3 separate regions of the Homo sapiens genome follow, and regions 2 and 3 are each linked to region 1. Evidence: fine-mapped expression QTL. A gene starts in region 1. Each other region holds a variant in brackets. All regions are shown on one strand. Distances are from middle to middle.

Evidence for each region. PIP is the estimated chance that this variant, and not a neighbour inherited with it, causes the effect.
Region 2: its variant is the best candidate, but not a certain one, in a credible set for the expression of TDP1 in sun-exposed skin (GTEx, PIP 0.77).
Region 3: its variant is the best candidate, but not a certain one, in a credible set for the expression of TDP1 in cerebellum (GTEx, PIP 0.62).

The regions. Positions count from the first base shown.
Region 1 is chr14:89,951,302-89,959,790 of GRCh38, reverse strand. TDP1 (tyrosyl-DNA phosphodiesterase 1) reads right to left here and starts at 3,864. Exons shown (of 17, transcript NM_018319.4): 1 at 3,821-3,864; 2 at 2,991-3,213. It overlaps EFCAB11 (EF-hand calcium binding domain 11), which reads left to right and starts at 5,061. Exons shown (of 6, transcript NM_145231.4): 1 at 5,061-5,205; 2 at 5,790-5,885. The coding sequence starts at 5,131. RefSeq lists enhancers at 1,298-1,806, 4,832-5,332 and a silencer at 3,537-3,766.
Region 2 is chr14:89,995,092-90,003,580 of GRCh38, reverse strand. The region is part of intron 14 of TDP1 (tyrosyl-DNA phosphodiesterase 1); the gene reads right to left. Among named protein-coding and RNA genes, the nearest start is that of TDP1, 43 kb to the right of the region's middle. The variant T/C (reference allele first, on the strand shown) is at 4,301.
Region 3 is chr14:89,886,423-89,894,911 of GRCh38, reverse strand. The region is part of intron 5 of EFCAB11 (EF-hand calcium binding domain 11); the gene reads left to right. It also overlaps the pseudogene RAB42P1. Among named protein-coding and RNA genes, the nearest start is that of EFCAB11, 64 kb to the left of the region's middle. RefSeq lists an enhancer at 1,550-2,105. The variant G/A (reference allele first, on the strand shown) is at 4,637.

The sequences.
Region 1 (8,489 bases):
GTGAATTATTTAGAGAATTTCAAAGGTTTTTAAGTTTTATCATTATCTCCATTTTCTAAAACCATATGGAAGTGGAATTCCCTCCAACAAAGTAGGACAAGAGGATAAAAAATAAAACAAAGCTTTAAAAAAGACATTTTCTAGAGAACAAAGCCTTTTTTTGGGGTTCTGCTCTATAAAGTTTTGGACCTGCTGAAACTCAAAAATATGCCTGAGTTGCTTATTACAACCTAATACAATTTATTGGGTTACAATTTAGTGCAACAGACTAATAAAATTGTGTCTTGTTGTTAAATGTAGCAGCTTACCAACCTCTTTATGACATCAAGGCTCCCGCCCAGTTGGAAAAGAACTGCTAGTAAACACCAATATCAAACTTTTACTTTGGATAACTGGTCACCAGTAACAGAATTTACTTCCCTCATAGAGGCTCTGGTGCCCAGCATTTCAGAGTGCTTTGTAATCAAGTCATACAGTTTTAAGAAATGTAGAACCTGAGAGCTTTCCTTCAATTGTTTATCATCTGTCTTCCCTGCCTGGGCAGTGCTTGGTACAGCATAAATCTGAAGTCACACTTTTTGTAAGTGGTACTGAAAGAATCAGAATACAATATAGCTGTGTTGATTCTGAATCCTGGCACTCAATCAGAACGGCACAGTGTTTCCTGAAGTGGAAGTGATTGGGACCTGACATTATGAAAGTACTTCCCTTTCCATTCCAATCCAAACTCCCTGTTTAAATCAAGAAGAAAGTTGTAGTGTTGTAGAAATGCTTTTAATCTTGATTTTGAACAAATAGCAGGGTTTGGGCTCTTCTGCAGGCACCAACAATTTTGTTTACCATCAACAGAAGGTATCTTATGGCTACGTTATATTTGAAATAGCAAAATAAAGTTTATTTTATGTAAAAGAATGATTGGATTCAAACAAAAATATTAAGTATATGATAGTCTATGTGATAGCGGCAGGAGGCAGACAAATCCCTAGGCAGATAGGGGCAGGGCCCCAGTGAAACCCCACCTGCAAACCAAAGACAGTTTAAAGCCTGAAAGCCAAGCTACAAGTGTTGGGTAAATCCACGGACCGGATTGATAACCCCTCTTCCCACTTGGCACACTTTCCTCTGATCAATCCCCACCCTTCACCTACTTTACATATATCTACCCTTCCCTAATTGGTTTTTTACATTGTCATGCCCACCTTTGAGTGGTGCCTTTGTTTTAGCCTTTTTTGCATACTCACAAACCATGGAGCACACACTCCCTCATTCTGAGCCCATAAAAGCCCCAGACTCAGTCACACCAGCGAACTGCCCACCTTGGGGTCAGGGCAGGGGCCATCCACTTGGGGTCCCGTCTCTGCTGAGAACTGTCTCATCACTGAGTAAAACTCACCTCCGCCCTTTTCCCCTTCGGTTGTCAGCCTAACCTCATTATTCTTGGACGCAGGACAAGAAATTCGGACCAGCTAAACAGCGAGTGCAAATAGAGCTATAACCCTGTAGCACTCCGTTCCGCTAGTGAAGCAATGGGAGAGGGAGCTGCTGGCTGCCACACACCCCCATTCATTGGGCTGCAGATGGTGGGACTAAAAGAGCTGTTAATACATCTCTATTTGCCTGGTGTCTCCAAGTGTTTGGGCACTACTGCATCCCCCTCGTCTGGACACCAGAATCTGCTACCAGAGTCACTTGCCATACACCCAGGCCATCCACAAGCCCTACATGGAGCCTGTGACTGGGCCAGCACTTGGAACAGCCAGCCGGGCCTCCAGGCTTGCTCACTCACTCACAAACCGACTCCTCGCGGGCTGAGCATGCAGTCATAGTGGCCACGGGATCTGGGCGGGGATGAAAGACAAATGCATTCTGCCAGGCTGAGTGGGCAGGGCACCTCCTGCAGCCAGCCCAGGGCTGGAGGTCTCCAGCTGGCAAAGCGGCCCTGAAATAAATCCTGTGTCATGTGTTAAGAGAATAAAGCAAACTGGGGAGAAGGCAGGTGAGTGTGAGTGAAATTTGGCAAACACTGCACTAACATGAAAAATCTAAGAAATCTTCCCACCAAATGCTAGCTCAGGACACTGTTAGCACTTTTATTAAGGACTTTAAAACATGTTGTGGATATAAAAGGGTACTCCATTTAGAGCTACTAGTGTTTCCTCACTCCCCACTATATGAGACCCAGCTGGGGCATTTCTCTTTCACCTCCAGCTGCTCCTTCTCATTGAGCTTAAAGACCATCAGCTGGGCCTGGAGGCCATGCTCCTCAATTGAGTTCCTGTGTGGCCAGTAATAGGCAAACATGGTCCCTTGTCTCAAACCCGGCCATGACTAGGGAGTAAATGTGCACTTGGGCAGGTTAGTTAACTGCTGAGCCTCAGTTTTTTAGTCTGTGAAATGGATATCATGCTTACCCCCTGGAGTTCATTCATTCAATAACTTACTGGGCAGCTATTATGTACCAAAAACTGGGAATGAGGCGTTAACAATATAGTTTCTACCCTAGCAGAGCTAATTTCAGGGCAGAAGAGACAGACCCACACATAAAAATTTTAATAGCCAAGATGAGTTAGACATTCATTACATTTTATAAGTATGAGACAGAAAAATAGGGGTGACCTTTGGAATATACTTAAAAAGTAACATATAAATGAGACCCAGAGGGCCAAAAGGAACCTGCTGTCTAAATGATGGGGTGAAGAGCATTCCCAAGTAGAGGGAACCCAGCCGGCAGAGGTGGGAAAGAGGTCATAAGAAAGGACTTAGGCAAGGCAGGCAGTGGTCCGAAGCGGGTGAGGGGAGAAGACTTGTTAAAGAAATTGGATTTTATGCAATGATCAATGGGACCCCACTGAGGGCTTTAAGAAGGGGAGTCCGATTTACATTTATTTTTTTGAGACAGAGTCTCGCTCTGCCGCTCAGGCTGGAGCGCAATGGCGCAATCTCGGCTCACTCCAACCTCTCTGCCTCCCAGGTTCAAGCAATTCTCCTACCTTAGCCTCCCGAGGAGCTAGGATTACAGGCATCCACCATCACGCTCGGCTAATTTTTCTATTTTTGTAGAGACGGGGTTTCACCATGTTGCCCGGGCTGATCTCAAACTCCTAACCTCAAGTGATTCAGCCGCCTCGGCCTCCCAAAGTGCTAGGATGACAGGCGTGAGTCACCGCGCCCGGCCTTCGATTTGCCTTTTTAATACAGCTGTGTGCTCCAACTCTGCGGAGAATGGGTTGAAGACAAAGGAAGTGAGAGGGCTCTTGCTGAAGGCGTTGGGGACGGAGCAGATTCAGAACGTGAGGAAGTGACGGCAGCAGCTGCTAACCTTACTGCGTGCTCATTTGGGGCCGGCCAGGCACGATTCGAAGCGCCTCACCAAGTGTAAACTCGCTTCACCCTCAGGACAACTCTATACTACGTACCGTGACCGTCCTCCTATACTGGGAAACCGAGCACAGAAAGCTTAAGCGCCTGGCACGTGGTGGGCGCTTTCCTACTCACTTTCTGGGACCACGCACCTGTAAGCTTAGGTCTGGGAATAAAAACCCGAGCAGGGGCCCCTAGCGCCGCGCCCCGGCAGGACACAGGTCTCCGCAGCGCCCGTGCGCGCCCCCTGAGGCGCTGTGATCGGAGGAAACCGAGGCCCCGGGGCCGAGGCGACCCTGCCCCATCTTCCCGGCCGCGCCGCTTCCTCGCGGTCCGCCTCCAGCCCTGCCGGACCCCAGCAGCCCGCGCACCGCGACTCGGCCAGGAGCAGGATCCCGGGCCCGACCGCAGCCCGCGAGAGACCGCACCGAGTCCGCGCCCACTGCCGCCCAACACGTACCTGAGGCGCACAGAACCAACGCTTGCCTCGGATCCCGCCCCTTCGGCGGCCGCCGCGCATGCGCGCAGTTCAAACCCTGGCGGCAGCGGCTTGTGCCTCGAGGCCCGGCCCCTTCCCCTTCCGGAGAGCCCACCGCTGGGTCCTAAAGCCCGCCGGGTGTTTACCCAGGACGGGGCTGGGGAAACCTGGTCTCTCCTAGCTCTTGGCTTACTTCCTGGAGACTTCTTAAAACGAGAGGAGAACCAGAAAGGCGTCCCCTAACTTCGCTCTAGTTAACTAATAGCAAGACTCACCCTCTTTACAGGATTCTCATGGCTCAGGCTCCCAGGGCTCCATGCAGCGGCGTTTGGTTTAAAGTGGAGAGAGGATACGCTTAGGTTAAAGGCAGCTGCAAGGAGACCTGTGTCCTGGGAGGGGCTGGGTGCAGACTTTGAAATCTGCTGCAAAATAAAAAGTTAAATGAGTTCCCATTGGACTCAGAACCTCGAATGTCTGTTCCTTCTTCGCAACAGTTGCGTTCTCGTAAAATCTTCTGAGAAAAGGAACTCGCCCCACGTTCCTTGCCTTTAATAAGGATGTTTGCTGTGGGATTTGGGCTCGGTGCTGTTTATGGTATTTATTCTTGGAATCTCTTTCACACTAGGCATCTCTTCCAGAGGACTGAGTGAAATACATCTGTGTAAATATAACGGCTCGTTTCGTTCTTTCATTGAAGATCTACTTTGTGCCAGGCACAGTGCTAGGTGCTGGGATTATCTTGAGGACATAACAGATGTAGTAGCTGCCCTAGGAGCTCGATCCCAATGACTTGCTGATCTGAACGAGAATCCTGGACTTGGCTCTTTTCGTTTGGTTCTTCTTGTTTGTTCACAGTCTTTTTGTCTCCTATAACGTTTAGCATAGTGTCATAGATCTAAATGATTAAAAGTAACCTATTGCAAGATGGAGGGAGAGAATGAAATAAATCATGAACCAGGCATTGAACCAGCACCTAGAAGCGCTTGGATTTCCAGCCGCGCTCAACGAGTTAAGGGACAGTCAGGGGGTGGAGCCAAGTGCTGGGGGCAGGCCTGGGCGCCTCACTGCCAGGGCGGCTCCAAGGAAACGTAATTAAACAAAGACTCTGGCCAATAGCCCTGCGGGATTAACGCGAGTGGCTGGCAGGTTGTCCAATGGGAGGAGACGTCGGAGTTGCGCGGTGAAGTTCGGCTTCCTGAGCCGCGGTGGGCGTGGCCGCGGTAGGCTGCCAGCCAGGCTGGGAAAGCGGTGGTAGCTGGTTGGGTTGCTGGGGCTCGGTTGTTGTAGTCGCGATGTTCTTCTCCGAGGCCAGAGCCAGGTCGCGGACGTGGGAAGCCAGTCCCTCGGAACACAGGAAGTGGGTGGAAGTAGGTTTCCGGAGGGCGACTGAGCCTCGGACTTCAGCTTGGCCTGGGCCTCTCGCTTCCTCTCCCGTGTCTGGGTCTCACTCTGCCGGGTGTGCAGATAAGACCTGGGCTGCCTGTCCAAAGGGTCGTGGTTAATGACTGATCCTGGAGCTGCAGGGCTCCTGGCTCCCCGTCCAGGACTACGGCTACCTCCAAGTTCCATCTCCTTTCTCTCTATATAGTCTATTAATGGTAACCTTGAGTCTGCATCTCTCCCGCCTTTCAAAGCCAGCCCCTTTGCCTCACCTTCCTAACTCCAGGACTGAATTTTGGGTAGAATTTATCTCAGTGGCCTAAATGAATTAATTTGCGTCACCTAGCGGTTAACTCGTTTGCACTTTGAGGGAAATTTCAGCCCATGTTTAAGAAAATTTCAGTCCATCTTTAAGATTTCTTGAGAATTAATATTGGGATAATGAAATTCTATTTTCATACTCTACCGCTGGGCCAAGTTTTAGATTTTCGAGGTCCAAACTGTATAATAAACTAGTAATAAAAATAAACCATTTCTGTCTCATTAACTAAAGCTATTTAATGTTCTTCAGGTATTTAAAGCATGTGATGAAGATCACAAAGGATATCTCAGCAGAGAGGACTTTAAAACTGCTGTTGTAATGCTGTTTGGGTACAAGCCCTCCAAGGTAGAGCTTTCTTATATATTTGGGGATGGGGTAGACGATCAAAGGTGAATGGATCCTAAGAAAAGTTCACAGGGCTAGCTTAGGATGTTTATAAATTGCTTTATAAGCAATTTCAGAGATGTGTCCAGTGCTGAATTTTAGCTTCCTCTTAACACCTCAGCCCAGAGATGAAGTAGAAATCTTTTCCACTGGAGTCTACACAAGCCTATCTCACCACCAGGCTGCTAATAACTACTATAAATACAAGATGCTAGAGAGGTGCCAAGAGGGAAGACTGAGAGGGGAGTGTTGGTAACAGGAGAAATTTACATAGGACATGACATAGTCTCTTTCTCGTTTTACTTTTGTTGCTTTGTTTATAAAATACATCCACGGTCAAAAAATTAAAACAGTGCAGAAAGGTATAAAGTTGAGCATAAAATCCGCTCGCCGCCTACCAGAGGGTCCCACTCCTAGGGGATTACCATTAACAGTTTTTTTGTGTAATTCTGAAATTTTCTATCCATGACATACATATGCATAGTCTTTTATTGAAAACATAAATGGGTAAATATTGTGCCTACTTTAACTTGCTTTTCTCATTTAACAATATATCAACCTAAAAGCACACACCACTACTGCATTTTAAAATATGGTTGCATATTCTTTTTAGCCAGGTTCCTGTCTGGGGTTATATAGGTGGGGTTTTTTTTTTTTTTCTGCCAACATTGCTGCAATGATACACACATTTATGTCCTTGTGGCTGTATATCTGTGGAATAAGTTCCTAGAAGTATAACTGCTAGGTCATGGAATATGTACGTTTAAAATTTTGTTAGATATTTGCTCTCCAGAAAAGATTGCACCAATTCACCAATAATGAGAGTTGAGCTGAGCCTCCATGAACCTCCTGCTTGAGTAGGGCAAGTTTCCTGCTCACCCCTGTCTTTATGCTTTTCTGCTTTCCTGTTACATTCATTCGAGAGACAACACCCTTCTTGTTAAGCTGGAATTAGTCAGAGTCAAGATATTGTCCAGATTCAAGAAATTGAGCTGCCACCATCAAGCAAAGGAAGCACTCAGAGCTCAGCCTGGAATGCCATCCCTCACTCTCATTAGACCAGACAGCTTGGCAGTTAATTAGGGCCCAGCTGTTCTCCTCATGAGTGGACTGTGCCTTTCTGTCAGATTGAAAGCCCAGCAAAGCCAGGGACCCTGTGATGTCATGCCTCTCCGCCCTATTTGTGTCAACAGAACATACTTACTGTGAAGTTGTGATGCACAATAAGTATTAATATATTCTCTTGACCCAAGTAGGTTGCATGAACAGCTCAGGTGGGTTCAGAGTGGCTCAGCTATGAGGGGCTGCCTAGTTACTGAGAAGCTTATTATGGAGCTCAGAGAAGTAGTCAGGGCTGACTCTTAGAAATGGCAGCTCTCCTGTTTACCTGTAATCATTTCAGTTGGAATTACAAAGCAGGTCAGCTGAAAAGAGTCAGCCTGTGAAGCATTGTATTTAACTTGGATTCACCTGGAAAGGTATCTTGTCTCATTTTTGCCTTTATCACCCTTGAGTCTATTTGGTTTCAATTTTAGAATGAGGAATTTAATGACAGATACAGTGATGTAACATACTGTACATACACTCCATGAAATTTAACAGATTTTACTTTTCATATTGAGGTGAGGTTTTCTATTTTATTTTTTAAGCAAATGAACTATTTAGTAACCGCAGGTCACTAAACGGTATTTACTAATAGCATGTCACCTATAAACTTAGTCATTTGTACAATGAACTTTTATTATGCAGGTGACACTTAATTTCTGTGAAATTCAACAGATTTTTTTAGACTAGGTTGAGGTTTGGGGTTTAATTTTTTAATATTGCTTTTGAGCAAATGAAATATTCACTGACTGCAGGTCATGAAGCAATAAAATACTTATATAATAAATCACTTATACATTCATGCAGTTTTTTACATAATTAAGTTTATTTATTTGTTGAGATGCAGTCTTGCTCTGTCACCCAGGCTAGAGTGTAGTGGCGTGATCTAGGCTCACTGCAACCTCCACTTTCCAGGTTCAAGCAATTCTCCTGCCTCATCCTCTTGAGTAGCTGGGACTACAGGTGCACACGACCATACCCGGTTCTTTTTTTTCTTTTTTTTTTTTTGTGTTTTTAGTAGAGATGGGGTTTCACCAATGTTGGCCAGTCTGGTCTCCAACTCCTGACCTCAAGTGATCCGCCCACCTCAGCCTCCCAAAGTGCTGGGATTACAGGCATAAGCTACTGTGCCCACCCATACACAATGAAATTTATTGTTTCTATTTAATAAAAGGAGTACTTGCTAGTTGCTAGTGATATAAAGATGAATGAAACACAGTCTCTACTTCGAAGCAGTTCAGAGTTTAATATAGAAAGACATAAAACTGTGATAGATACCAAGAAAGAGAAGAGATTGAAAAACAAAGTGAAGGGAGCAAAGAAGGAAGGCCTAATTCTAGTGGTAACTATAACAGTCTGGGTGGTCATTTAGACTAGAGAAGATAGACTACTCTGATAAGTATCTAGGAACACTTTGTGGGTGGTGGGACAAGTTAGGCCCTGATGACTGATTGGATGTGG
Region 2 (8,489 bases), 44 kb before region 1:
AGGCTTCTCTTAAACCTCATCTTCCTCCTGCTTAGTCCTGTGGTAAAATTTAAATACCACATTTGTCATCATGTCCCAATAATTTCCCTAACAACCGGCTGCCCATCAAACATGGGATGATTTTACGGTAGGATCAAAACAGATGGGAGGGAAATCTTATTAAAACCATAAATATCTCTCCATAAAAGTAACCAATCAAAAGAGGAAATCGCCAGCTAATATAACATCCTAATAAGTTCAAGTGAACTGTTAATTTTGAGTTTCTCTGAATGTATAAATCTGGCTGACGGTACTTGTCCTGATTAAATAGAGTAATTGTGACCAATTTAAAAATTAACCACATATGGCTGGGCGCAGTGGCTCACGCCTGTAATCCCAGCACTTTGGGAGGCCAAGGCGGGCGGATCACAAGGTCAGGAGTTCGAGACCAGCCTGGCCAATACCGTGAAACCTCATCTCTACTAAAAATACAAAAATTAGCTGGGCATGGTGGCATGCGCCTGTAGTCCCAGCTACTCGGGAGGCTGAGGCAGAAGAATCGCTTGAACCCGGGAGGCGGAGGTTGCAGTGAGCCGAAATCATGCCACTGCACTCCAGCCTGGGTGAATGGCGAGACTCCATCTCAAAAAAAATAAATAAATAAAATAAAAATAACCACATATTTAGTTTAGAAAAGGCTATATATCTATGAAAAGATCTTCTTTTTTTGAGACAGGGTCTCACTCTGTTGCCTAGGCTGGAGTACAGTGGTGCCATCATGACTCACTGCAGCCTCAATCTCCCAGGCTCAAGTTATCTTCCCACCTCAGCCTCCTGAGTAGCTGGGACTGCAGGCGCACACCACCAAGCATCCCCCGCCTTTTTTTTTTTTTTTGTAGAGATGGGGTTTTACCATGTTGCTCAGGCTGATCTTGAATTCCTGAGCGCAAGTGATCCGATCGCCTTGGCCTCCCAAAGTGCTGGGATTACATGTGTGAGCCACTGCACCTAGCTTGAATACGTCTTAAGGTCATATATTTTATATGGATGTGTTACACAGGCAAAACAGATAAAGGCTTTATAAGGTGCTTTCTTAAATCCTAAGAGGCCTAATGAATATGAGAGACATGAAAAATCAAGCAGTGAACTAATATTAAACACAGCATACTGTTTAATAGGAAACAACCGCATGTTTTCTATCATCATCCTTGGGATTCCATAAATGAGATAAAAGCCAAGGGTATAAATGCGTTTTCCAAAATTTAAGTGGCAAGGCTAGTAAGTGGCAATCTCAAATTAGGACTTGGATCTTTGGACTCTATCTCAGGTTATTTCCTCCATAATATGCTGGATGATTGGGTAATGTCACCATCTGTGGACCCTGGGTTTGAAAATGTTGATGGGTTACAGCTATTAAACCCAAGCAACTAGTAGTAGTGGTTTCTGGATGAGGAGCAGGGTGGCTGGGGAACAGGAATGGGAAGACATACCTTCTTTATATACCATTTATTTTATTGTGTATGTTACCTATTGGAAAAAAATAAGTTTTTAAAAGGGTACTGATTCAAATAATTTTTGGTCAGTAACCATGTGCCATGCAGTGTTAGATGCTAAGCAGAAAAAGATGAGTAAGATCAGGCACCTTGCTCACCTGAAGCTCATGACACAGGGAAGCAAAGAGACCCATAAAGAAGCAACCAGGTCGATGCCTACAGAAGCAGTGAGAAGATATTCAAAAAATTAAAAAATAAATAAAATAAACTGGGAAGATGAAAAAAGGACCAAGCAAAAGGCGCCATGAAAACACAAAGGAAAAAATAATTATGCCTGCTGAGCTAGAAAAAGTTTCACTTTAAGGGGAGCATTTGAATTAGAAGTTGAAAGAAAAGTATAGTTATTGTAGACAGTACAGAAAAAAATAAAACCTGAGAAGCAGTCTGAAAATAAACTGCATTTAGATTAAGGGGGATACCATTCATTCAGTTCTGAGCCACTACAGGCCAGGTACTGAACTAGGCACTATATTAGCCAATCTGCCAGAAGGCACAAACATTAAAGAATAATTACCAAAGATCACAATGAGTATTCTGGTAGGAAATGAAGCATGATAATTATAAACTCATTTTTTCTCTACAGTAAAAGGAAACTTCTAATGCAGATAGTTCAACAGAAACTTCATTAAAAAAGGTTTTGGTGCAGATTTTATGATTCTTGGTGACGTGGTAACTATGGCAACCATATACTAAAACGTGACCCAGGATCTATGAAAAATGTTTTCAGTCAGAACCTCAATCACAACACATAATGAAAGAGAGGAAATGAAAACTATGATTTATATTTAAAATAATAAAAGGGAAGATTAAAAACTATATTAAGGCTAGCATTTTTATAAGATTCCAATTCCTGACCTTCTGTAGCCAGTTTTCACATTTGTGAAATGTCAACTGGATGAAACAAAGTCCAAATGATCAGGAAGTCAACATCCTCTACTTATGATGGGTAGAGACATAACAGGCAATAAGATATTACGTAGACCCAATAGGAACCATACGAAATACATTTCCTAAGGGGATGAGATTTTTTAAGATTAGGAAATCAGATCTTTTGTGATTCTATGAATCTTTTATAGGACTATTATTTTTAACAACTCTACATACCCAAGTAAATATGGTTCTCCAAAGCAGTCATGCTGCGGGGTTGGTCCCTTACTCCAGTACAGCTGCCTCTTTTGGCTCCAAGAAAGTACAGAACTTCTCAAAGAGCTTTGGAGCCAGAGGTTCAGTCTTTTGAGTGTGTACAAGGGTACTTTTGCTTAACTACAAAAAACAAACCCCAATTTTGGAAACAGTAAAAAATTAATTCCAGCCAAAATTGGAGAATAAGATGGGTAAATCGAACCAGGAAAGAAATATCAGTGGGCCAGGTGCAGTAGTTCATGCCTATAATCCCAGCACTTTGGGGGGCCGAGGTGGGCGGATCATCTGAGGTCGGGAGTTCAAGACCAGCCTGACCAACATGGAGAAACTCCATCTCTACTAAAAATACAAAATTAGCCGTGGTCTGGTGGCGCATGCCTGTAATCCCAGCTACTCAGGAGGCTGAGGCAGGAGAATTGCTTGAACCCAGGAGGCAGAGGTTGCAGTGAGCCGAGATCGTGACATTGCACTTCAGCCTGGGCAATAAGAGCGGAACTCCATCAGTGAAGTCTGTGGAAAGCAGAATCGAAAGATGGCCCCTGGTGCACATGCCTGTATATCCCCTTTCCTTGAGGATAAGCCAGAATTGTGAATATGATAGAGTTTCACTTGCATAATTTGGTTATCAATTAATTAAGTTACTCAAAAGGGAAACAATCCTGGGTGGGCCTGAGTTGGGTCCTTCCTGAGATAGATCCTCCTGCTGGTCTCCAAGAAGCATCCCATGAGGAATGCAGCAGACCACCACGGGCAGCACCTAGGAGCCGAGAACGCCGGGCTGACAGCCAACAAGAAAGCAGGAACGTCAGGCTTACAGCCACAAGCAACCGTGAGCTTGAAAGAGGACTCCCAAGCTTCAGATGAGAGCACAGCTGGGTTGACGCCTTGATTTTAGCCTGGTGAGACACTGAGCAGAGGGCTCAGCTAATCCACGCCCAGACTCCTGACCCACGGGAACCATGAGATAGTAAATTTGTATTGTTTTAAGCCCCCTTATAGTTTGTGATCATATATTACATAGCAACAGAAAACTAATGCAAGGCTGGAAACAAAGAATGTCTATTAAGAAACAATACTTATTTGTTAATGTGTCATGTCAACTTATTTTGAAAGAACTTGGAAGAGTGGAAAGAAAACTTGAGCAATGGCAATGTTTTTGGCCAAAGCACCTACTTTCAAAGGGTGATCATAATACTTTTTTGGATATGCAGCTCTAGATTATTTTTTAAAGTCTATCATGTTAAAAGTCAAAATTCATATTGCCTATAATTCTCTGTGCTTATTACTCCTATAATTTTTTTCTGGGGAATTTGTTTTAATTTTATTGTACTTAATAAAGAGGAGTGGGTTATTCATTCCAAACCCAAACATTAATACGGATCAGTAATAATAAAGTAGAAAAATATCAAAAGTTAAATTTACGTAGCTTTTGATGTATTTACCTTTGGCTAAAATCCAATTCTTAAAACTAGTATGTCTGCTACTTTGCTGACAGAGCATTAGATTTGCTGGGCATGAGCACTTCATTTGGACTAGAATCCACAGTGCTCTCTACAATCCTGCCTCACTATTCTAAAGCAAGTAAATATATTAAATGAAAGGATATATCAGTTGTTCATAACGAA[T/C]TTATTCTCAAGGATGATGATATTGTCCACCAGAGCATAAAATCTAGGGAATATTTAGAAATGTATAAGGCATTTTTTTCAGCTTTCACTAGGACTTGGCAGTTAATATGTGATGGCCAGGTTATTAAATAACTTATAATGCATGGGACAATCTTGTATAACAAAAAATTATCTTGACCAAAATAACAATAGTGCCCTGTTGAGAGACACACTATTTGAGTATAAGCTGAAGTCGACTATTTAAAACCACATCTTATTCTAGAAAATCTCATGGAACAAGCATTTAGAAAAGCACTCAATTATTCCAATCAATTCAAATTATAACATTCATTGAACTGCTTTCCATAGACCAACGACTAATAAGGCCTCAGGCAACCCCGGAGACATCAAAGAAACGGTAATATCTGAAAGCAGGTAAAAAGGCAAAGTCTGGCCACCCACTACTGCTCTGAACTCACCTACCCTCCCATCCTATTGACTCCAGTAACACTCACTTTGCTGTTAATCAAACACAGTAAGCATATTCCCACTCCCCACCCCGCGTCCCTCAGCAACCCATCCACATGGCTCTTCCCCTACTTCTTTCAGGTCTCTGCATGAATGTCACCACGTCAGAAGGCCTTCCCTGACCTTCTTCCTTAAGGAGCAGCCTCCCTCCCCAACCCGAGCACTCACACCCTACAGGACAGTGTTTGAGGGTGGGGACTCTGGATTCTTGGGCACATTGTTTAACCTCTGTGCTTCAGTTCTTCCATCTGAAAAGGGGATTAATGGATACACTGTAGAACGGCTATAAGAATTACATGAATTAATATATACATATATATACATATACATATACATACATACATACATACATATATATATATATATATATATATATATATATATATATATATATATATATAATGTGCTTGGAACTGTGCCTGGAACTGCTGGTTAAGAACTACATGTTAGCTCTGAAAATTTAAAAACAATAACCTAAACCAAATTTGAAATAAAGCTTTTAACTCATTTCATTTGATAGCAAAACTTGATCTTAACTCATTGGGCAACAAAAGTTGAACTAAGATGACATGGGGCTACCTGTGATCTTTGCTTCCAAAATGTTGTATTATGAAGTGTTGGTCCAGATACCACTAGGGATATTAACAGACAGTATAGGTACCATATTATCTTTCTAAAATCCAAATACTGAACTACATCTGGTACCAAGAATTTAGAATAAAGGATTGTGCACCTAAATTATCATTCTATTTTTTCTCTATAGCACTTACCACCATTTGCATACATAAACACACTTCTTTGCTTTTTGTGTAATTCCCAGCACCAGAACATAAAAGTCAAGATGTTTTATTGTTTATTGCATTCTTAGCACCTAGAAAAGTGTGTGGTGCATAGTAGGTGCTCAGTAGTTATGTGCTGGATAAATGGTTAAATCTGATACCCAAAATAGAATATATATATAAAACATTTTTCTTAGGTAGAAGAAAAATTATGTAATGGAGAATGTGTGACCAGTTGCTCTTCAACCCAGGAGGGATGGCTTGAATCCAATTCATTTGTTTGGCAATGGAACACCTGGTAGGCATGAAAAGCCCACCTGATATGTATTTCTTGTATGTTCCTCAATGCCCAGGCGTTGATCCGCTATATTCTCCTCTGGAAGTCGCAAAGGATTACGGTGTTAACAATCAGTACTAACCAAAACTCCAAAACATACTATATGTACACCAAACTTTTAAGTTCATCTCCAACAAACAATTCCACCTGAAGTCTCCACCATGATAAATCAATCTTCAATCAAATTCACCATCATCCCACTGTGGTAGGCCAGTTCCATTCCCTGACTTCTATACTGATATCAGTGACAATCCCCATCTACATACCCCAAACTCAGGAATCACCTTTGAGGGCCCTCCCATGTTCCATTATGCAGTCTAGGCAGTGCTTTCATGGTTACCACTTCAATCCTAGGCTTCATCAGCCTCCACATGTCAGGCACCTGGCCAGTCACCAGGGTATGCTGAACAAGACAGGCATGGACTTGGCCTCACAGAGTCTAGAGGGGAAGCCAGATAATTACACAAGCAACCACAGTGAATAGGGAAAGAACGCTGACAATGCAGGAATCTAGGGCATTATGGAAGCCACCAGGCTCCAGAAGTGATGTTTTGGCTAAAAACCCACCTATGTAGAATAGTCAAAAAGCATTACAAGTGCAATTAACTAATATGTATACAATGAATTCTTTGGTAAATCTCTTTCATGCCAATGTAAATTCTGTGAGAACCTCATCTTAATTACTCTATTCTTGCCACAGCGGGCAATACATATTTGCTGAGTAATGGGTAGAACTGCCTCAACTCTGCCGCCTTATTCCTCATTGAGTGGAGGGAGGGGATAACGCCACCTCACAGCTCTTGTGGGGACTGAAAGACACTACTATGTAGGTAAAGCACCAGAAGTGTCTGCCACATGGTGGCTACTTAATGCAGGTCAATTCTCTCCCCTGCCCCTTTCTTCTTACTCCCACAGGTCACCATAGTTGGCACCTTAAACCTTCATAGTTGCTGTGCAGTTGAGAAGTCTGAGGCTCAGAGAGGTTAAGAAACTTGTCCAAGGCAAGACTTGTTCAATAGTAGACATGACCATCTCATCTAGTACTGTCTGACAATGTTAAAGCTCATGCTTGAGAGACAAAATAGTGAGGTAGGAGCTGTGAGCTCCACTGGTGGCACACGGATCTAAGGATCTGGACAGGGAGGGACCAGCAGAGGCTGAAAGAGGCTCCAGGCGGAGATGGGACCTGAACACAACTCTTAAAAGATGAACAGCAACTGAAGAAAGAGAGAAAAGGGATGAAAGGATCAGGAGAAGAAACTACATGGGCTGTTGGCTGGATGACTTCAGGGGCAAAGGAGGCTAGCCTGGCTTCTTCTCAAGGCTCCTCTTGGGGATTAATGGGTAAGAATGGTGAAAATGGTGTGGCTGGGGCATGACTTCCAAACTGAGGAATCTGTACTTTAGCCTACAGGACGTGGGGAATTCTGAACATGGAACAATGAGGAAACTCTATGTTTCAGAAAGGTGAAGGGGCATGGGCAACCAGGATGAGTGGCTTATGAAGAACATCCACGTGATGACACAACAGATAGGAAACCCTTTCAGAAGTCCAGAGGATAAGTTTCTGACCTGGTAATTGCAAGGACTGGAAGAGGAAACTTTTGAAACATTTCAAAGATAAATAGGCTTTGACAGCTATTTCCAAAGCATCCATGTGCCCACCTCAAGCACATAATTGGTCTCTTCCTATTGTAATTATTTCTGTGTCTGGCTCCTCCATCAGAGACTGTGAGCATCTAAAAGACACTATCTAAATCTTCTGTTTTATCCTGAGTGCCTGGCATCCACAGGAGGACCTCAGCAAATGTTTGCCAAACATTTGAGGGAATAGTGAAAGAGACATTCAGGCTTTAAGCTTGGTAATAAGAGACAGGTGCCACAAGGGCAAAGAAGAATTCTGGGAAAAGAAATCTCCATCTACATGAGTTCGGTTTGGGAACATTCTTTCTGACAGGTTCAGAAAAAGTGACAGACAAAACAAAATGTCCAAACCTAATCAAGGGAGCTCCTTACTGGTAGATGCCATTTATATTTGGAAACTATACTTTCCTTTATTATGGAAGGGCTGAGAGAGTGGGTTCTATGTATCTAAGTTGTTATTTAAGTTATGTTTCTTAGAAATCCTTTAATCATATTGGAATGCTCAATGTCCTTTTCCTCTTTTATACAGCAATCAAAGTAAAGCCTGACACAATTTCTTTGGAATTAACTAGTCTTTGTAGAAAACAGGCACACTAAAACTCTATGTTGATTAAGAGGGGGCATCAGACAGTAGAGGAGAGGTGTGCTCCTATCTGGGTTCCATCACTTATTACTGCATGATAGTAGGCAGCTTATTAATCACTCTGTGCCTCCTGGTCCTCATGCAGCTGTTGTGAGAATTAAATAAGTAAATACACATGATTGCTCACCCAGAACAGTCTGGCATATTGAAATTACTGAATGAATGTTGTTGCTATTCATCTTTAAACATTTAGGCAAGTAGATACAGCTTTCAGTCCAGTTATTACAGAATAAAACTAGAAGCTACAAAGCCATAATGACAAATTTCAAATTCTTACAA
Region 3 (8,489 bases), 65 kb after region 1:
TGGATTTCTTCCTACATATTTTATCGTTTTTGTTGCTATTGTAAATAGTAGCTTTTGAAAATTATGTTTTTTAAATTACTTGTAGAAACAATAGAAATGAAATTGCTTTTTGTATGTTAATCTTCTAGCTAACAACCTTGTTAACTTTGTAGATTTTTAAGGATCCACAAAGATAATGACATCAGTGGAAAATAGTAATTATTTCTTCCGTTCCAATCCTTATATCATTTATTTCTTTTTGCTGACATATGCACTGGCTAGGACTTACAGGGGTGATAGTGTCTTGTTCTGAAACTCAAAGGGAAAGATTTCAATATTTTATCACTTAATTTGATCATAGCCGTAGGGGTTAGATCCTTTCTCAGATTAAAGAATTTCTTATCTGGTCTAGTTTATCATGAGTTTTTTAAAAATCAAGAATTGATGAGAACACATGGACACAGGGAGGGGAACATCACATACTGGGGGCCTGTCGGGGGCGGAGGTGGGGGGGACAACTGGAGGCAGAGCATTAGGACAAATACCTAATGCATGTGGGGCTTAAAACCTAGATGACAGGTTGATAGGTGCAGCAAACCACCATGGCACTTGTATACCTATGTAACAAACCTGCACGTTCCGCACATGTATCCCAGAACTTAAATTAAAAAAAAAAAAATCAAGGCTGGGTGCGGTGGCTCACGCCTGTAATCCCAGCACTTTGGGAGGCTGAGGCGGGTGGATCACGAGGTCAGGAGATCGAGACCGTTCTGGCTAACACGGTGAAACCCCATCTCTACTAAAAATACGAAAAATAAGCCGGGGGCGTGATGGCGGGCACAGGAGAATGGCGTGAACCCGGGAGGCGGAGCTTGCAGTGAGCCGAGATCGCGCCACTGCACTCCAGCCTGGGCGACAGAGAGAGACTCCGTCTCAAAAAAAGAAAAAAAAAATCAAGAATTGGCATTAAATTTCACTATATGCTTTTTCTGTATCTATTGAGATGTTATTTTTTGAAATTCATTAATATGATGAATAACATGTCTGTGTATATGTATGTATAGTTTTAATATCAATTCATCTTTTATATTTTTGATATAAACCCAAGTTTACTATCCTATTATCTTTTTTTTTGTTTGTTTGTTTTTTTTTTTTGGAGACGAGTGTGCAGATGTTTATTAGGGGATATTCTTGAAATGGATACCTGTTTGGGGAAGAAAAGGAAGCAGGATTGGGCAGGGGGATAACTTGGCTATGATGTCACAACAGTGTCCTCAATGAAGCCCACAGAGACTGATAAAGTTGGGTTTGACTTTCAGAGTTGTCCAGAGCTGGGGCAAGAGGGAAAGGCCTTTAAGGCCCCCCAGGAGATGGACTTTGGATACGGGCTGCCCTGAAGGGAGGGCCTTTCCCAGAGAGTGGGGCAAGCTGAAGTCCATCATCCAGCGGCACTTCAGCAGCTGGGGAGAGGGTTGATGGGTTCCCCAGCCAGAAAGGGGGATCTTGGTGGCTCATCACAGTGGCCACTGTGTGCCCAACATAGTTGCTGCACATTCGTGTTCATCCCAGCCTCCAACATCCATTTTTCAGCCCCTGGGCCTAGGGTGGGGGCAAACCCAGCAACCCTGGGTTTGACATCACATATTAATCCCATTCCCAGAATCATTTTAGCCTGAGGACATAAGGAGCCTCCAAGCCAAGCTCCCCTTGGAATTTCCCGCACCTGCCTTTGCTCATGCAGCAGCTTCCTGACGCTGGCTTCTCAGTGTCTGAGCCCAGGAATGCTGCCAGAGTGGGCACATCACAGCCAAGAAAAAGGGAGTGGGAATGAGAGCTTTTGTCATTCAGTTCACAGCGCGGCAGGCTCTGGGTGAGCACATCCTGTCCACTATCTCATTCGTGGTCACCACCTCCCTGCAAGGTGGGATCTTTTATGAGCCCCATCGATAGATAAGGACACTGAGGCTCAAGGACAGGAAGTTGCACATCTGGGCTCTCAGGCCTTTCTTTTCTTTTCTTTTCTTTTTTTTTGAAACAGAGTCTCACTCTGTTGCCCAGGCTGGAGTGCAGTGGCACAGTCTTGGCTCACTGCAATCTCTGCCTCCTGGGTTCAAGCGATTCTCCTGCCTTAGCCTCCGGAGTAACTGGGATTACAGGCATGCACCACCACGCCTGGCTAATTTTTGTATTTTTAGTAGAGACGGGGTTTCACCATGTTGGCCAGGCTGGTCTCGAACTCCTGACCTCAGGTGATCCGCTGTCCTTGGCCTCCGAAAATGCTAGGATTACAGGCGTGAGCCACCATGCCTGGCCATCAGACCTTTCTTTTCTGTAGAAACCCTTGACTCTAAAATCCAGGAAGCATGACTGTGTCAGGATACTGTTTATATGAACCCTTCTGTCATTTGTCCTCCAGAGAGATACTAACATTCCCCATCCCACCAGGTGGGCTAAGGCTGGGACTGCTTTAACCCTTTCTCTCCTAGAGTCAACACTGGCATGGGCCTGGGTGCTGCTTCCTGCTGGGGGACCTGGGGATTTGGGTCTTGTGGATGAGCCGGACACCCCCCAAGCCCTCTTCTAGCTTGATGTCCCCCTGCTGCAGGGCCTGCTGGATAGCATCAGTGAGGGCGTCAAAGGCCAGGTCCACATTGCAGTTGTTTTTAACAGAGGTCTCCACGAAGGCCATGCCCAGGGAGGCAGCTAGCTCCTCGGCCTCCTGGGCTGAGACACAGCGGGTGCTCTGCAGGTCACTCTTGTGGCCAACCAGCAGGAAGATGACCTTGTCCGGGCCCTGAGTGGCCATGACCTCCTGGTGCCAGTCTTGGATGTGTTCAAAGGACTTCCTGTTTGTCACATCAAAGACCAGCAGGACACCCACCACATTCCGGTAAAAGGACCCGGTGATGCAGCTGAAGCGCTCGTGGCCCGCGGTGTCCCAGAGCTGCAGCTTGACCCGCGGCCCAGCCCGCAGCTGCAGCGCGCGGCGGTAGCACTCGGCGCCCACCGTGGGCTCGGGCTTGGGCTGTGGGGCGCCAGGCGCGCCCGCCACGTAGCTCCGCAGCAGCGACGTCTTGCCCACCGCCGCGTCCCCCAGCAGCGCGACCCGAAATTGGTAGCGGCAGCCCTCGGCCTCCATGGCCGCGTCCCTATCCTATTATCTTTTTAATGCACAGTAGGATTCAGTTTGCTAATATTTTACTTAGGGTGGTGTGTGCGTGTGCGCGTGCGTGTGTGTGTGTGTGTTTGTGTCTAAAATGGAGCTGTAATTTTCCTTTCTTGTTTTGTTTCATTTCAAGCTTATACTGGCCTCATACAGTGAATTAGGGAGAATTCCCTCTTTTTATATTTGGTACAGATTTTGCTATTTTAATATAAATAAAATATTGCCTTGGAAATTTTATAACTTTAATTATAAACATAATCAGAAACCTCTTGCTTCTGACAATACATTGTTTTCTGCTACTTTGAAAAACTCTGATTTCTACCATAATATCTCAAACTCTTAAGTAATTTTAATGAATTAAAAGTACAAAGGTATTAAAAGGTTATAAACATTTATTAAAATCCTCTGTTACATCTTATAGTTTTCTATTCCCTGAAGTCACTTCAAGTTATTTATTTTTAAACATAGAACCTCTAGTTGAAGTCTATTTATGTCTGCTTCTGCTGGTTCTTGCTCATGGTGACTAGTTTCCCTGTAAACTTGTTTGTATTCAACTTTCTGGAGCTCACCGACCTTGAAAAATAATTTATGAGGAATTCCACAAGTCCAGGATGAAATCAGAGTGGTTTATGTGTTTTTGCCAGGCTCCTTGTAGCACAGTCAGTACAGGACTATATTAAAACAAATCCACAGATGGAAGTTTCTGTATTCACTCAAGGTATGTTTAGACCTAGGATCCCAGGGACTCTCCCAGTGAGGGTCAGTCAACACTCATAACTTCTCAGGGGTGAATGATCGTTTTTTATTTCATTTTTCTCTTACTCCTTTGCTCAGCACCAGGGAAACTTTCATGTAGTCCTTTGGATTTCAGCTTAATGTGGGAAAGTTATCCTGTGAGATGATCCAAATTGGCAAAGTCCTGGATCTTCACTTCTGGCCTCGTCTCCCCATGAGGCTACCAGACCGCAGCCCCAGTGCACGATGTGAGTGAATGCCTTCAGGGCAAAGGTGGCTTTGGGATGCCAACTTTCTTTCCACTAACCTCTTTGGGTTCAAGCTAGCCTCAAGAATTTGGCCTGGCAGCTCTTTTTAATTTTTCAGTCCTTTTAAGGTGGTTTTGTTTTAGTGTCTTATCCAGCATCTTTAGTTTTTTGCAGTGGGGAGTTGATCTGAGTATCCAAAAACAGAAACTCATGTGAATTCTTAAATACTTTGTCTCCCAAACTTTTCCTTCTAAATTCTGCTTTCCAAATATTGATTTATTAGGTAGACAATAAGAATTATTAAGTGTTAGAAAAGAGTATCACTTATTTGTAAGAGATATAGAAAATATATAAAATCAGTAATGCATTTCTAAAGCTTAGTAATTCTGGCATTTTAGCTTTACTTTATCTTCTATTGCTGTTTAAAGAATATGACCAAGTATTTCTGACCTTTTATTGCTCTTATATTGAATATCATTTAGAAGTTGTAAGCTAAATATTTATTTTC[G/A]TATAACCTAAAACCATAGTATTAGGAAATACTGATGTAATTTAGTGATCATGTCATTGAAGCTTAACATTTTTATTGCATTCATTATTTATGAGAAGAAATCATGCAGTGTTTCTGTTTTTATCAAGGTATTATATCTAAAAATCACTTTTCTTGAACTTGAACTCAATATTTATAAAAGTGCATTTTATAGTACTTATACCTACGACAAAATAATTGATTAACTGTGTCCAAGTGTGTTGATGGGTCCCCAAGGGCCAACGCTAGATTTGATGATTCACTAGAAGGACTTCCAAGACTCAGCCTACAGTCGTATTCATGGCTATGATTTATTACAGTGAAAGGATTCAATGCAAAACCAGCACACGGGAAGGGTACATGGGGTGAAGTCCAGGGGAAACCAGATGCCAGTTTCCCATTGTTCCCCTCCAGTGGAGTCACAGAGAACACAATTCCCCAATAGTAAGCTGTGACCAAACATGTGAAATGTGCCAACCAGGGAAGCTCAGTAGAGACTCAGTGCCCAGGGTTTAATTGTGGGCTGATCACACTGGCATTCTCTGTCTGGCATGTGCCAAAATTTCAGACTCGCAGAAGGAAAGCAAGTATTCAGTGGGAGCCATGTTGTCTGCACAAACAGTTTTAAGCACAGTGATCAACTCTTACCAGTTAATGGTGGTAGGAACCTTCCTGAAATCCAAGTTCCCAGATGCCAGTCAAGGGCCAGGCTTGTAAGCAGAATTGCAGTCAGGTCTGCTGTCTTAACTTTTTTCTACATGTGGAGGTGTGGCTGAAGTTTTTTAAGCACTTACCATTTGGCAAGCACTGTTCTAAGCCCTTTACTCGTTTCATCCTCACAATCACCATTTCATAGATGGGGAACTGAGGGATAGAGAAGTTAAAAAATTTGTCTCATATTTCACAGCTAATAAGTAGTAAAACAGGATTCATAGTAAGGCTTCGAATCCATGATTTTATCCAATACTTTATTTGGGTTTTTTTGAAAATTACTTTCATTTTGTCTCACCTCATGAATAAGATGTTCCATACATTTCCTTAAAATGGTGATTAAAATAAATTGTCAAAAAAAGGAAGAAATTGTCTTCATACAGCCCCTTTTAATCTTCAGTGTTGTTTCATGGCTCTTAATTTTCAGATTTGAAAAATCATTCTAATTATCATGCAAACCCTTCCTGATCTCATAGGCTTTTCTCTGCCTCTGTGTTTCTTCTGGGTTGGAGAATTTGAATTGTTTTTTCCATTTGTCTGGTCCTTGACCACTAATTTACTGCCATGGTTCTTTCTGTATTTCCCTTTTGGTATTTTCTGAAATTTAGCAATTAGAACTGCAAACAGAGACAGTATCACAGCGCCATGGTTTTATAAACAAAGACAGGACAGCTGTCTTAGTCCATTTGGGCTGCTATAATAAAAATACCATAAACTGGGTGGCTTATAAACAACAGAAATTTTTTTCTGACACTTCTGTAGGCCGGGAAGTCCAAGAGCAAGGAGCTGGCAAATCTGGAGTCTGGGGAGGGCCCACTTTCTGGTTCACAGATGGTACCTTCTAAATGTGTCCTTGATATAGTTTGGACATTTGTTCCCACCCAAATCTCATGTTGAACTGTAATCCCCAATGCTGGAGGTGGGGCCTGGTGGGAGGTGTCTGGATCATGGGGACAGATCCCTCAAGGCTTGGTGCTGTCTTCATGTTAGTGAGTTCTTGTGAGATTTGGCCATTTAAAAGTGTGTAGCACTTCCCCTGCTCCAACTCTTGTTCCTGCTCTGGCCATGTGACATGCCTGCTCCTGCTTTACCTTCTGCCATGATTGTAGGCTTCCCCAGAAGCCAAGCAGATGCCAACGCCATGCTTCCTGTAAAGCCTGCAGAACCATAAGCCATCTAAACCTTGTCTTTATAAATTATCTAAGCTCAGATATTTCTTTATAGCAATGCAAGAACAGCCTACTACAGTCTTCATATGGTGAAAGGAGAGAACTCTAGTCTCTTCAGCCCCTTATAAGGGCACCAATCCCATTCATGGGGGTTCAGCCTTTATGACCTAATTACCTTCCAAAGGCCCCACCTCCAGCCATCACATTGGTGATTAGGTTTTAACATATGCATTTGGGGCAGGCACAAATATTCAGACCATAGCAACAGCATTTTCTGTTTTATTTCCTTCTTTGTAATTCTCATCATTGTATTGGCCGTATTATCTACCTCAGTATGTTGAACAGTGACTTAAGGGCATGGCCTTTAAATGCTGCTAGAGGGCCATCTGGGATATAGCTGATAACTAAGAGCTTGCCTCTCTACAAGTATACTTTAGATTATTTTTTTAGAATTGAAATGAGAAGATTCACTATTTGCTATATCCATTTCCAAGAAAATATATTATAGCTTCAAGAAAAATGCGAGTGTTAACACGTGCTGAAATATGATACAGATGTTTAATGTCTTACTGTAATATTATTTTACTGTTCATAGTCACCTGCTTTTTTGATCCCTGCCTAAGTTTGCTTTCTTTATTCCATAACACCTGTTCCCAGGAATATATTTACAGTCTGTTGTCTTTTCTAAATGGTTGGTACATATGTAAGAAAAAGGTTGACTTTTACTGGTTTCTTTCAGTAAATACCTTAAGGATTCCTTGTTATTTATTTTCAGTGTTACTTTATTTCAATTTAATACCTTAGTACTGTTTTTACTTAAATACCACATAAGGAGTCATGCTATATGACCTAGGCATGACACTTACTTAAATGTTTATGGATAGAAAACAAATTATTTCTAGTTTTACTTTTTAAAAAGAATTCCAAAACTTCAAACTACACATGATAAATGGCCCTGTGTTTCCATAGGCTTAGAAAGCTTATGTCTAATTTATTACTCCTATGTGATCATGTGTATCTAGTTGTTTGCTACCTTCTATTTCAGATCTTTGCATTTGTAGTTCCCTGTTTAAATATCACATCATCAGAGAGGCCTTTCCTATCCAAAGTGACTTCACTCCATCTCCCATCCCCAGTAAATCTCTGCTGCCTGGTTTTATGTCATTCATAGCAGTTAGCAAATCTCAGGGAAGATTTTTGTTTTTGTTTCCTTATTGTCTATCTGTCAGGCTTGACTATAAAGCTTCATGAGAGCAGTGATGTTGTCTGTTCTTGAATACCTCTGGATGTTCAGGTTAGTTCAGAGCACTTGTTGAATAAATTAATGAATTTATTAAAGACTATAAAAACAATCTGTTTATATTAGTATGGTATTTGATCTTTGTTAATTCAAATCTATAAGATTTTCTGTGGATTATTTAGGATGTGAAGAAGGTATCCAGACTGACCTTAGGTTTAGGTTATAATAATTAGCTAACTAAAAAGTTAACAATGGATATATTTAATCTCTAAGCCTGATTAAATTTTCTGACTCTTTGGGCTGTCTCTGAGAATTGTGTATCTGCTGTAAATTACCAAAACTGCAATAAATCAGGAGTCTTTCCAAATATCGAGATACTAAATACATACTTTGATCTCTTTGTGTCCATTAGAAATATTTTAAACATAGAAAAGTATGGAGAATAATATGGTGTAACACTTGCATTTCAGCCACTTCCCTTTATCTTGTCTTAATATTTGTCATATTTGCCTCAGTGTTTGATCAAAAACCAGTCTTGATATTTTTAAGATATACTTAAATCAGTAGATCTTGAGTAAAGCAGATCACTTTCCTTTTTTTTTTTTTTTTTTTTTTTTTTTGAGACGGAGTTTCGCTCTGTTGCTCAGGCTGGAGTGCAGTGGCGCGATCTCAGCTCACTGCAAGCTCCGCCCCCAGGGTTCATGCCATTCTCCTG